Linked DNA regions of Homo sapiens: region 2 is linked to region 1. The links come from fine-mapping of genetic effects on gene expression. A gene starts in region 1. The other region holds a variant in brackets. All regions are shown on one strand. Distances are between the middles of the regions.

Region 1 (5,376 bases):
GCTGAACTTTCCTTCTGGCATACTTTGGGGTTCCAATATTTTTTTCTTTCACAACCACAAAATTCCTTAAGGGAAGGGACATGTCTCACAAATGTTTATATCTATCGTTTTCTCCCTACCCACCCCCAATCCCAGCACTTAAAATACAAAAAATGGGACAGGAGTGGTGGCTGATGCCTGTAATCCCAGCATTTTGGGAGGCCAAGGCAGGCCGACTGCTTAAGCACAGGCATAAGAGACCAGTTTGGGCAACATGGCAAAACCCTGTTTCTAAAAAACAATAAATAAAATAAAAACAGGCCAGGCGTGGTGGCTCACGCCTGTAATCCCAGCACTTTGGGAGGCTGAGGTGAGCGGATCACAAGGTCAGGAGTTCAAGACCAGCCTGGCTCTACTAAAAATACAAAAGTTAGCTGGGTGTAGTGGCACCTGTAATCTCAGCAATTTGGGAGGCCGAGGCAGGAGAGTTGCTTGAACCCAGGAGGCGGAGGTTGCAGTGAGCCGAGATTGCACCACTGCACTCCAGCCTGGGTGACAGAGCAAGACTCCATATCGAAAAAAAAATAGATAAATACATTTTAAAAATAAAAAATTAGCTGGGTGTGGTGGCTCATGCTTGTAATCCAAGCACTTTGGGAGGCCAAGGTGGGTGGATTACCAGAGGTCAGGAGTTTGAGACCAGCCTGGCCAACATGGCAAAACCCCATCTCTATTAAAAGTACAAAAACTAGCCGGGCATGGTGGCATGCACCTGCATTCCCAGCTACTCGAGAGGCTGAGACGGGAGAACTGCTTGAACCTGGGAGGCAGAGGTTGCAGTGAGCCCAGATTGCACCACTGTACTCCAGCCTGGGTGACAGAGTGAGACTCCCTCTCAAAAAAAAAAAAAAAAAAAGAATTCATAACAGGAAGGTAAAGTGGGTGAACCTCTGAAGCACATTATAACATAAGTAGAGAAAGAGGAAGACAGAGAAAATGTGGAGAGCAGAACAGAAGTGAGAAGTGATCAAGTACTCTCATGAGGTGTGGGAGGGGGGCACTTAGTGGCACCCCACAATCTGCCTTCTGGAGAGACAGATTTCTAACCTTCTGTCTGGACTATGGTGTCAAAGTGCAAGTTGATAATTAACAGAGATTTTTCCTTTCTCTTCATCTCCATGTTCATCTCCAAGGCACTGAACAATGAAGTCAACCTTTTCATAACTGTCCATTTTTAGTTTCATTCATTGCACAAGTGCTTATTGAGCAAGGGATTTTAAGGTGATAAGAGACACACAAACACAGAAGCCCATCCCTGTCCTTAAAGAGCTCCCAATTTGACATAATTTAAATATTCATCTCCAAAGGAATTTAGAGAACCTATCCCAAATCCCAGGTTCCTCTTGGATACAGCATTTTAATCGTCAACACCCAAATCTTGTGATAGAAAAGGGCGGGCACACCAATAACTTGGAAACAACATTTATTTTTAGAATGAGTGCAGTGGCTCAGGCTTGTAATCCCAGCACTTTGGGAGGCTGAGGCGGGAAGATCGGTTGAGTCCAAGAGGTTGAAATCAGCAAGGGCAACATAGCGAGACCCCCATCTCTACAAAAAATAATAATAATTAACTAGGCGTGGTGATTAGCCCCCTGTAGTTCCAGCTACTCAGGAGGCCAAGGTGAGAGGATCCCTTGAGCCCGGGAGTTCGAGGCTGCAGTGAGCTATGATGGCCACTGCACTCTAGCCTAGGTGACAGGGCAAGACCCTGTCTCAAAAAACAAACACAAACAAAAACCCTTATTTTCAAAAATTATGAATTTTGTAAATCTCAGGATTTACATCCCTCTGTTTTTAGTTTTGCAATCCACATAAAACCAAGACAAAACAAAAGCTCTGAGAACTCACCTACTCAAGGTCGCCTTGGCTGCAATTCAGATCACCCGAAAATCCCAAAGCCCAGGCTGCACTTCAGACCAATTAAGTCGGGAAACATCCCAAAGCCCAAGTGCACCTCAGACCAATTAAGTCGGGAATCCAGGCACCCTCAGGTGATTCGAATGTGTAGCCAAGGTTGACAACAACCGCTATAAATCATTCTGCCCTTGAAACGGGAGAACCAGGATCTACATTTTTCAAGAACCAGGATCTATGGCACCGTCACCCTCGTCCCTACACACAGGCCACCAGCAATGTTCCCAGATGCAGTTTTGTGTTTCACGCGGTCAAGAACAGAATCCAATCCTCTCCCACTTGGACAAGTGAGGATGGAGGAAGGTTAATCTAACCCGCCCCGGCCCTGGTCAATATCGCATCCGTGCGGAAGCAGACGCTGGCTCGGCTTTGCGGGCCGCAGAGAAGCCCCCGGACGCCTCTCTCTCCTCCACCTGCTGGGTTCCTGGCTTCGGAATGGGGAGTTGCGGGGGTGGAAAAGAGGAAAGCCCAGCGCCGGGGGACAGGATCGCCATAGGAACGAGCACAGGCTGTCCCCCGAAAGACCGAGACAAAGAGGCGCCCCCCGCCCGAACAAACCGGCGGTACTCACGCAAGTGCCACCCAGCTTGTGGCTCTCCACCACGGCGGCCCTGGCACCCAGCTCGGCCGCCCTGCGCGCGCTGGCCAGCCCGCCCGAGCCGCCCCCGATCACCAGGTAGTCATAGGAGGCCACGGCGCCAGCAGCGGGCGGCGGGCCCTGCGGCTGCGGCTCCTGCCTGCAGGCCATGGCACGGGAGAGGGCGCGCGTGAGGGCCGCGGGCTCGGGCAGAAGCAGCAGGAAGCCTCGGAAGGCGCGCGCCGCCCGCCGCCAGCTCGGTCCCGCGCCGGCGCTCAGGGCTCGGGGCAGCAGGGCCATGCACGCGGAAGTGGCGCGCCAAGTGGGGCGGGCGGCCCGGGGGCGGTCCCCGGGGTAGGGGGGCGCGGGCCCCGGGCAAGCGCAGCCTCACGGTGACTAAGCATGCGCCCGCCGCTAGGCAAGACCCAGGAGGATGCCCAGAGGCGGGGCCGCCTCCCAGTTCCCCGCCCCGGTGGCGGAGCCTGAGGGGTTTCTCCGCCTCCGTTCTCACCCCGGCCCCTGGATCCCGAGCGGCGCCTGCCGCGTGTAGCCTTCTGAAGTCCGGTGGATCGAGGCGAGGAACGGTGAACGTCCTCTCGTTTCAGCTGGCTTTTCCCGAGCTGGCCCCCTGGGGAGTTGCCAGTGGCACGGCTTCTCCAGGAAGAGAAATTTGCCTCTATTCGAAGGGTTGTTTGTCCAGGTTTGTTCCAGAGACCACTTTTGTTTGTTCTTGCTTTTTCTTTGAGACTGGGTCTCACTCTCCCCCAGGCAGGGGTGCAGTGATGCGATCTCTGCTCACTGCAGCCTCCACCTACTGTGCTCAAGCAGCGATCCTCCCTCCTCAGCCTTCCCGGTAGCTGGGAACTACAGGTGCCCGCCACAGCGCCCAGCTAATTTATTTATTTATTTATTTAATTTTTTTTTTTATTTTTTTTATTATTTTTATTTTTTTTTTAGAAATAGGGTCTCACTATGTTACCAGGACTGGTAGGGAACTCTTGGCCTCAAGCGATTCTCTCACCTCGGCCTCCCAAAATGCTAGGATTATGGTATGAGGTCACCACTTCTCCTGTTGTCCTTCTCAGTTTCTCCCCAACCTCCCCTTTTCCCTAGTTTATAAGACAGGAGAAAAGGGAGAAAGCAAAAAGTTGGAAAGAAACAGAAGTAAGATAAATAGCTAGACGACCTTGGCACCACCACCTGGCCCTGGTGGCTAAGATAATAATAATATTATTAACCCCTGACCAAAACTATTGGTGTTATCTGTAAATTCCAGACATTGTATGAGAAAGCACTGTAAAACTTTTTGTTCTGTTAGCTGATGTATATAGCCCCCAGTCACGTTTCCCACGCTTACTTGATCTATTATGATTTTTTCACGTAGACCCCTTAGAGTTGTAAGCCCTTAAAAGGGCTAGGAATTTCTTTTTCGGAGAGCTCGGCTCTCAAGACGCGAGTCTGCCAACGCTCCTGGCCGAATAAAAAACCTCTTCCTGCTTTAATCTGGTGTCTGAGGAGTTTTGTCTGTGACTCATCCTGCTATATTTCTTGGTTCCCTGACTGGGAAGCGAGGTAATTGACGGACAGTCGAGGCAGCCCCTTAGGGGGCTTAGGCCTGCCCTGTGGAGCATCCCTGCGGGGAACTCCCGCCAGCTTGAGCGACGCGGATCCTGCGAGCGCTCCTGGGTAGGCAATTGCCCCGGTGGAACGCCTAGTCAGAGCAGTGCGTGGCAGGCCCCCGTGGAGTATCAACGCAGTGGCTGAACACCGGGAAGGAACAGGCACTTGGAGTCCGGACATTTGAAACTTGGTAAGACTGGTCTTCGGAACTTGCCCACTCCATTTGAGTGGAAGCATGGCCTGATCACCCACGGCGTGCCTGTACTGGCACTTTGGTTTTTGTTTTTGACTTGACTTGAATTGCTTGACACTTTGGTTTTGGTTTGACCTGGCTTGGATTACTGGATACTCTGATTTTGGTTTTGATTCTGGTTTGGTGAAAACTGAAAAAGTGCGTGTGTGCCCTTTTTACCCATTCTTTGTTTTGTGGTGTGCGTTTGGTGTGAGCTTGGTGTTTTGTCTTGAGGAAACACGGGTCAGACACAAAATAAGCCTACTCCTCTAGGAACTATGTTGAAAAATTTTAAGAAGGGATTTAATGGCGACTATGGGGTTACTATGACACCAGGGAAACTTAGAACTTTGTGTGAAATAGATTGGCCAACATTAGAAGTGGGTTGGCCATCAGAAGGAAGCCTGGACAGGTCCCTTGTTTCTAAGGTATGGCACAAGGTAACTGGTAAGTCAGGACACTCAGACCAGTTTCCATACATAGACACTTGGTTACCACAGTGGGTAAGAGGGCAGGCAGCAGCAGTGCTAGTAGCAAAGGGACAGATAGTCAAGGAAGGATCCCGCTCCACCCACCGAGGGAAATCAACTCCTGAAGTTCTGTTCGACCCAACATCAGACGATCCATTGCAGGAGATGGCAAAAGTCATCCCAGTGGTGCCCTCCCCTTACCAGGGAGAGAGGCTCCCCACTTTTGAGTCCACAGTGCTTGTGCCTCCGCAAGACAAACATATCCCTAGGCCACCCAGAGTAGACAAGAGAGGAGGTGAAGCCTCAGGAGAAACCCCTCCCTTGGCAGCTCGTTTAAGACCCAAAACGGGGATACAAATGCCCTTGAGAGAGCAGCGGTATACTGGAATAGATGAGGATGGGCACATGGCGGAGAGGCGTGTTTTTGTGTGCCAGCCCTTCACCTCTGCCGACCTTCTCAACTGGAAAAACAATACCCCGTCCTGTACTGAAAAGCCACAAGCTCTAATTGATTTGCTCCAAAC
Region 2 (5,376 bases), 43 kb before region 1:
TGTTGGAGCACCATGATGCCACAAGCAGAAAATTCCACACCTGACCTCATGTGAAGGGTTGCAGTCAAAAACGCAGACAAAAGTATGCCTCATGCACACATTTAAAATATCGTATAAAGTTACCTACCAACTATGTGTATAAGGTGTATGTAAAACAAATGAATTCCGTGTTTCGACTTGGGTCGCATCTGCAAAATATCTCATTATATATATGCAAATATTCCAAAATCTGAAACTGAAAACACTTCTGGTCCCAAGCATTTCAGATAAGGGATGCTCAACCTGTCTGGCCCCACTCCCAAAAGACACATTCACAAGTTCTCACTTACCTGGCAGTTAATCTACTTAATGAAGATATTAGCTTTTTAATACAATATTTATGGAACAAGCTATATTAGTTTTCAGCATCTTTAGTTCTATTTTATAACCCTAAAGTGCTGGAATTACAGGCATGAGCCACTGCGCCTAGAATCTTTATTATTATTATCATTATTATTATATTATTATTTTTTTTTTTTAGACAGAGTCTCGCTCTTGTTGCCAGGCTGGAGAGCAGTGGCGCCATCTCAGCTCGCTGCAACCTCTGCCTCCCGGGTTGAAGCAATTCTCCTGCCTCAGCCTCCCAAGTAGCTGGGACTACAGGCGTGTGCCACCACGCCCAGCTAATTTTTGTATTTTTAGCAGAGATGGGGTTTCACCATGTTGGTCAGGAAGGTCTCGATCTCTGGACCTCGTGATCTGCCCACCTCGGCCTCACAAAGTGCTGAGATTACAGGCGTGAGCCACCGTGCCCAGCTGAATCTTTATTTTTTTAATACAGACAACATCTCACTATGTTGCCCAGCCTGGTCTCAAACTACTAGACTCAAGCGATCCCCCAACTTCAGCCTCTGAAAGTGATGGGAGCCACCACACCTAGCCAAGAGCAAGAACTTTCTAAAGGAGCTAAAAGGGTTTGGGTGTGTGACTGGTGTAGGTTTTCATCCTGATATAAGGCCCTGGGACACGCTGGAATCGCTGATGAGGTTCTAGGTACAGACTGAAAGTAGATCAAGTGATCATTAATGGATAGAGATGGGACAGAGCTTGCAATGGTGCTTAGGAAGCGGGCTGAGGTGTGGGATGCCGGAGAGAAGGAAATCAGTCTTGGTTGTATCAAGACCAGTCATACAAGAATGACAATCTAGGCCATGTGTGGTGGCTCATGCCTGTAATCCTAACATTCTGGGAGGCTGAGGCAGGCAGTCTGCTTAAGCACAGGGGTTCAAGACAACATGGTAAAACCCTGTCTCTACAAAAAATGCACCTGTGATCCTAGCTACTTGGGAGTCTGAGGTGGGAGGATCACCTGAGCCCAGGAAGGTTGAAACTGCAGTGAGCCCGTGATCATGCCACTGCACTCCAGCCTGGGTAACAGAGTGTCTCCAAAAAAAAAAAAAATGCCAATCTAAATTACTTCTTCCAAATGCCACTTCCTTCCACTGCCACCAAGCACAAGTCTGCTCCTAAGAGAGTTCCGCAACGGGTGATCATATTGTCTACATGAAAACTTCAGTCTGTGCTAAGCATTTTAAGTCTTTTATTCAGATAATGTCAGGTATCCAACCAATATCTATTTCAACACATTGTACCATTTTGACAATATAAAGACACTCATCCTTTTAACTTTGCTTAAGCAGACTGCAGATTTGACAGTGAAGAGCCAGATGGATCATGTAACACGCAGACCCTCCCTCACCAAGAAGGGAAGAGACCTTACCTGGAGTAAGAAGAGCTTTTCCACATACATCCCCAACTGCATAGATGCCTTTGACGTTGGTATTCTGGAATTCGTCTACGATGATATGACCCTTGTCATCGGTTTGAATCCCCTAAAATTACAAAGAGATATCATGTAACCACTTGGCCCACCTACTAAAAAAGGTAGATCAAACCTCTGGATCTCCCTTCCTCATTTCACATGGGAACTGCAGCCAGAATCTCCAAGAAACCATGAGACTCAGCTGCAACACGAAAGGCATTTACAGCTGGCAAGTTTCAAGCTGGGTACAGTGGGCCCACACCTGTAACCCCAGAACTTTGAGAAGCC[G/A]AAGAGGGAGGATCCCTTAAGCCCAGGAGTTTGAGATCAGCTTGGGCAACACAGTGAGACCCTGCCTCTGTTAGAAATTAGAAAAAAAAAAGTTGGCAAGTTTCATATCTTGCTTAACATAAAAGGTAGTATTTTATCCACTTTTGAGATGTTTTAACAGGATTTGACATTGCAATGTACAATTCAACTGGCCAGGCAGACATGAAGAGGATCACTCAACTATCAGGTGTGCCACTTGGAATCCCTCTGGAGTCCAGCTTTTCAACTTGTCCCATGGAAGCACTGCTCCTGAGGAACACTGACTCAAGCAGTCACCAAAAGCATATCTATGTTTATTTAGTTTTTTTTTAGAGACAGGGTCTCGCTCTGTTACCCAGGCTGGAGTGCAGTGGTGTGATCATGGCTCACTGCAATCTTGACCTCCTGGGCTTAAGCAATCCTCCTGCTTAGCCTCCCGAGTAGCTAGAACTAGAGGCATGTGCCATCACACCTGGATAATTTTTTAACATACATTTATTTATTTATTTATTTATTTATTTATTTATTTATTTATTTATTTATTTATTTATTGAGATGGAGTCTCGCTCTGTCGCCCAGGCTGGCGCGATCTAGGCTCTCTGCAAGCTCTGCCTCCCAGGTTCACGCCATTCTCCTGCCTCAGCCTCCCGAGTAGCTGGGACTACAGGTGCCCGCCGCCACACCCAGCTAATTTTTTTGTATTTTTAGTAGAGACGGGGTTTCACCATGTTAGCCAGGATGGTCTTGATCTCCTGACCTCGTGATCCACCTGCCTCGGCCTCCCAGAGTGTTGGGATTACAGGCGTGAACCACCACGCCTAGCCTTTTTAACATTTTTTTATAGAATAGGTCTTGCTGTTTCCCAGGCTGACCTCAAACTTCTGGCCTCAAGTGATCCTCACGCCTAGGTCTCCCAAAGCACTGGGGTTACAGGTGTGAGCCACCATGCCTGGCCAAAAGCACATTTCTATGAAGCTTACCATTTTGTCTTTAAAAATCCAAGCAACTTTTGCACTCTACTCTAAAACATACTGATGTTTTTTTCAGACTCCCAGAAGAAAAGTAAAAGCAAAACAAAACAAAAACACATATTGATGTTTCCCTTAACCAAAAATATTTTCCTATATGTAGTCAAATTTTTGCTTTAAGAAGACATGTTATGCTTATCATGTGGCTTTGCAAATCCTAAGTATATATGAGAAGTAGAGATATGGCAGAAGTAGGAAGTAAGTAGCCACAGAGCTTAAGAGTACAACTGGCCAGGCGCAGTGGTTCAGGCCTGTAAATCCTAGCACTTCGGGAGGCCAAGGCGGGCGGATCACCTGAGGTCAGGAGTTTGAGACCAGCCTGGCCAACATGGTGAAACCCTGTCTCTACTAAAAATACTAAAAATTCGCCAGGCATGGTGGTGCATGCCCACCTACTTGGCAAGTCCCAGCTACTTGGGAAGCTGAGGCAGGAGAATCACTTGAACCCAGGGGGCGGAGATTGCAGTAAGCTGAGATGGCACCACTGACTCCAGCCTGGGCAACAGAAAGAGACTCTGCCTCAAAAAAAAAAAAAAAAAAAAAAAAAAAAGAGTACAACCTTTGGTACAGACAGACCAAAATTCAAATCCTAGCTCTGCAACTTACCGGTTATGAGACCTTGTATAACCACCTGTTTATCAACAAATATTTAAGCTTCTATTACAAATGAGACTTTGACTTCATCACTGAGAATACCATGGTAAGACAGACATTCTCCCTACACCATAGAGTTTACAGCCCAGTAAATTATCTAGTATCTCTGTGCTCCTGGCTTCCTTATACCTTGCCGGTTGTTGGCAAGATTAAATTAGATTAGTAACATGTTGACAAGACCTAGCACATAGTAATCACTCAATTTGCATTATATAAATATATCTTAATGTCAAATGAGACTGAACCTTTTTTTTTTGCCTCATTCTTCAAAAATTTAGCAAATATAGGCTGGGTGCAATGGCTCATGCCTGTAATCCCAGCACTTTGGGAAGCTGAGGTGGAAGGATCGCTTGAGCCCAGTTCAAAATTAGCCTGGGTAATACAGCGAGACCTTGTGTCTACAAAAATTTTTTTTAAAAATTAGCCAGGTGTGGTGGACCACGCCTGTAGTTCCTACTACTTGGGAGACTAAGGTAGAAGGATGGCTTGAGCCCAGGAGTTTGATGCTGCAAGGATGCAGTGAGCCATGATGGCACCACTGTACTCCAGCCTAGGTGACAGAGCAAGACCCTATCCAACCCCCCCAAAAAAAGTTAGCAAATTTAGTTGAAAACTGGACCTATCAGTGCTTACATCTGTACAATGGCAAAATATCTCTTGAAAGGTGAAAAGCTGAATGACCAGTTTTTTGTTGTTGTTGTTTTCTTTTGGTGTTTTTTTTTGGTTTTTTTTTTTTGAGACGGAGTTTTGCTTTTGTTGCCAGGGCTGGAGTGCAATGGCGTGATCTCGGCTCACTGCAACCTCAGCCTCCTGGGTTCAAGCGATTCTCCTGCCTCAGCCTCCCAAGTAGCTGGGATTACAGGCATGCGTCACCATGCCTGGCTAATTTTTGTATTATTAGTAGAGACGGCATTTCACCACGTTGCCCAGGCTGGTCTCGAACTCCTGACCTCAGGTGATCCACCCGCCTCAGCCTCCCAAAGAGCTGGGATTACAGGTGTGAGCCACGGCGCCTGGCTGACTAGTTTTGTTAATATGAAAATAGGCAATTAATTTTACTAAATGTCATTGAATAAGATTACAAACAATCAAAACATCTCCCTGAATATTTTATAAGTTAACATGCAGAAAAATGACCTTTTACAGAAACAGAAAAGGAATCCACATTACAACAGGAACTTAGTATTAGAACATAAGTCAAAAGGTATACACTGCTCAAGCAGCTCTATCAAATATATACGCCTCAGGCTGGGCGCAGTGGCTTACGCCTGTAATCCCAGCACTTTGAGAGGCCACGGTGGGTGGATCACCTGAGGTCAGGAGTTCGAGACCAGCCTGGCCAACATGGTGAAATCCTGTCTCTATTAAAAAAATACAAAAATTCGACGGGCGTGGTGGTACACGCCTGGAATCCCAGCTACTCGGGAGGCTGAGGTAGGCGAATCGCTAGAACCCAGGAGGCAGAGGTTGCAGTGAGCTAGATCACAACACTGTACTCCAGCCTGGGCAACACGGCAAGACTCTGTCTCAAAACAAACAAACAAACAAACAAACAAACAAAAAAACCCAGAACAAAATAAATATATG

Direction of the effects. Positions count from the first base shown, and alleles are read on the strand shown. Sizes are in standard deviations (SD) of each study's normalised expression.
As copies of A replace G in region 2, the expression in ileum of the gene that starts at base 2,841 in region 1 goes up (moderate effect, 0.57 SD a copy in CEDAR).

What was found. PIP is the estimated chance that this variant, and not a neighbour inherited with it, causes the effect.
Region 2: its variant is fine-mapped to the expression of GSR in ileum (CEDAR, PIP 0.91).

Annotation. Positions count from the first base shown.
Region 1 is chr8:30,725,006-30,730,381 of GRCh38, forward strand. GSR (glutathione-disulfide reductase) reads right to left here and starts at 2,841. Exons shown (of 13, transcript NM_000637.5): 1 at 2,525-2,841. The coding sequence starts at 2,830. It also overlaps a transcript of UBXN8 not described here. RefSeq lists enhancers at 1,739-2,426, 4,189-4,713 and silencers at 2,502-2,941, 3,012-3,101.
Region 2 is chr8:30,682,329-30,687,704 of GRCh38, forward strand. GSR (glutathione-disulfide reductase) reads right to left here. Exons shown (of 13, transcript NM_000637.5): 10 at 1,760-1,871. Among named protein-coding and RNA genes, the nearest start is that of GTF2E2, 27 kb to the left of the region's middle. The variant G/A (reference allele first, on the strand shown) is at 2,090.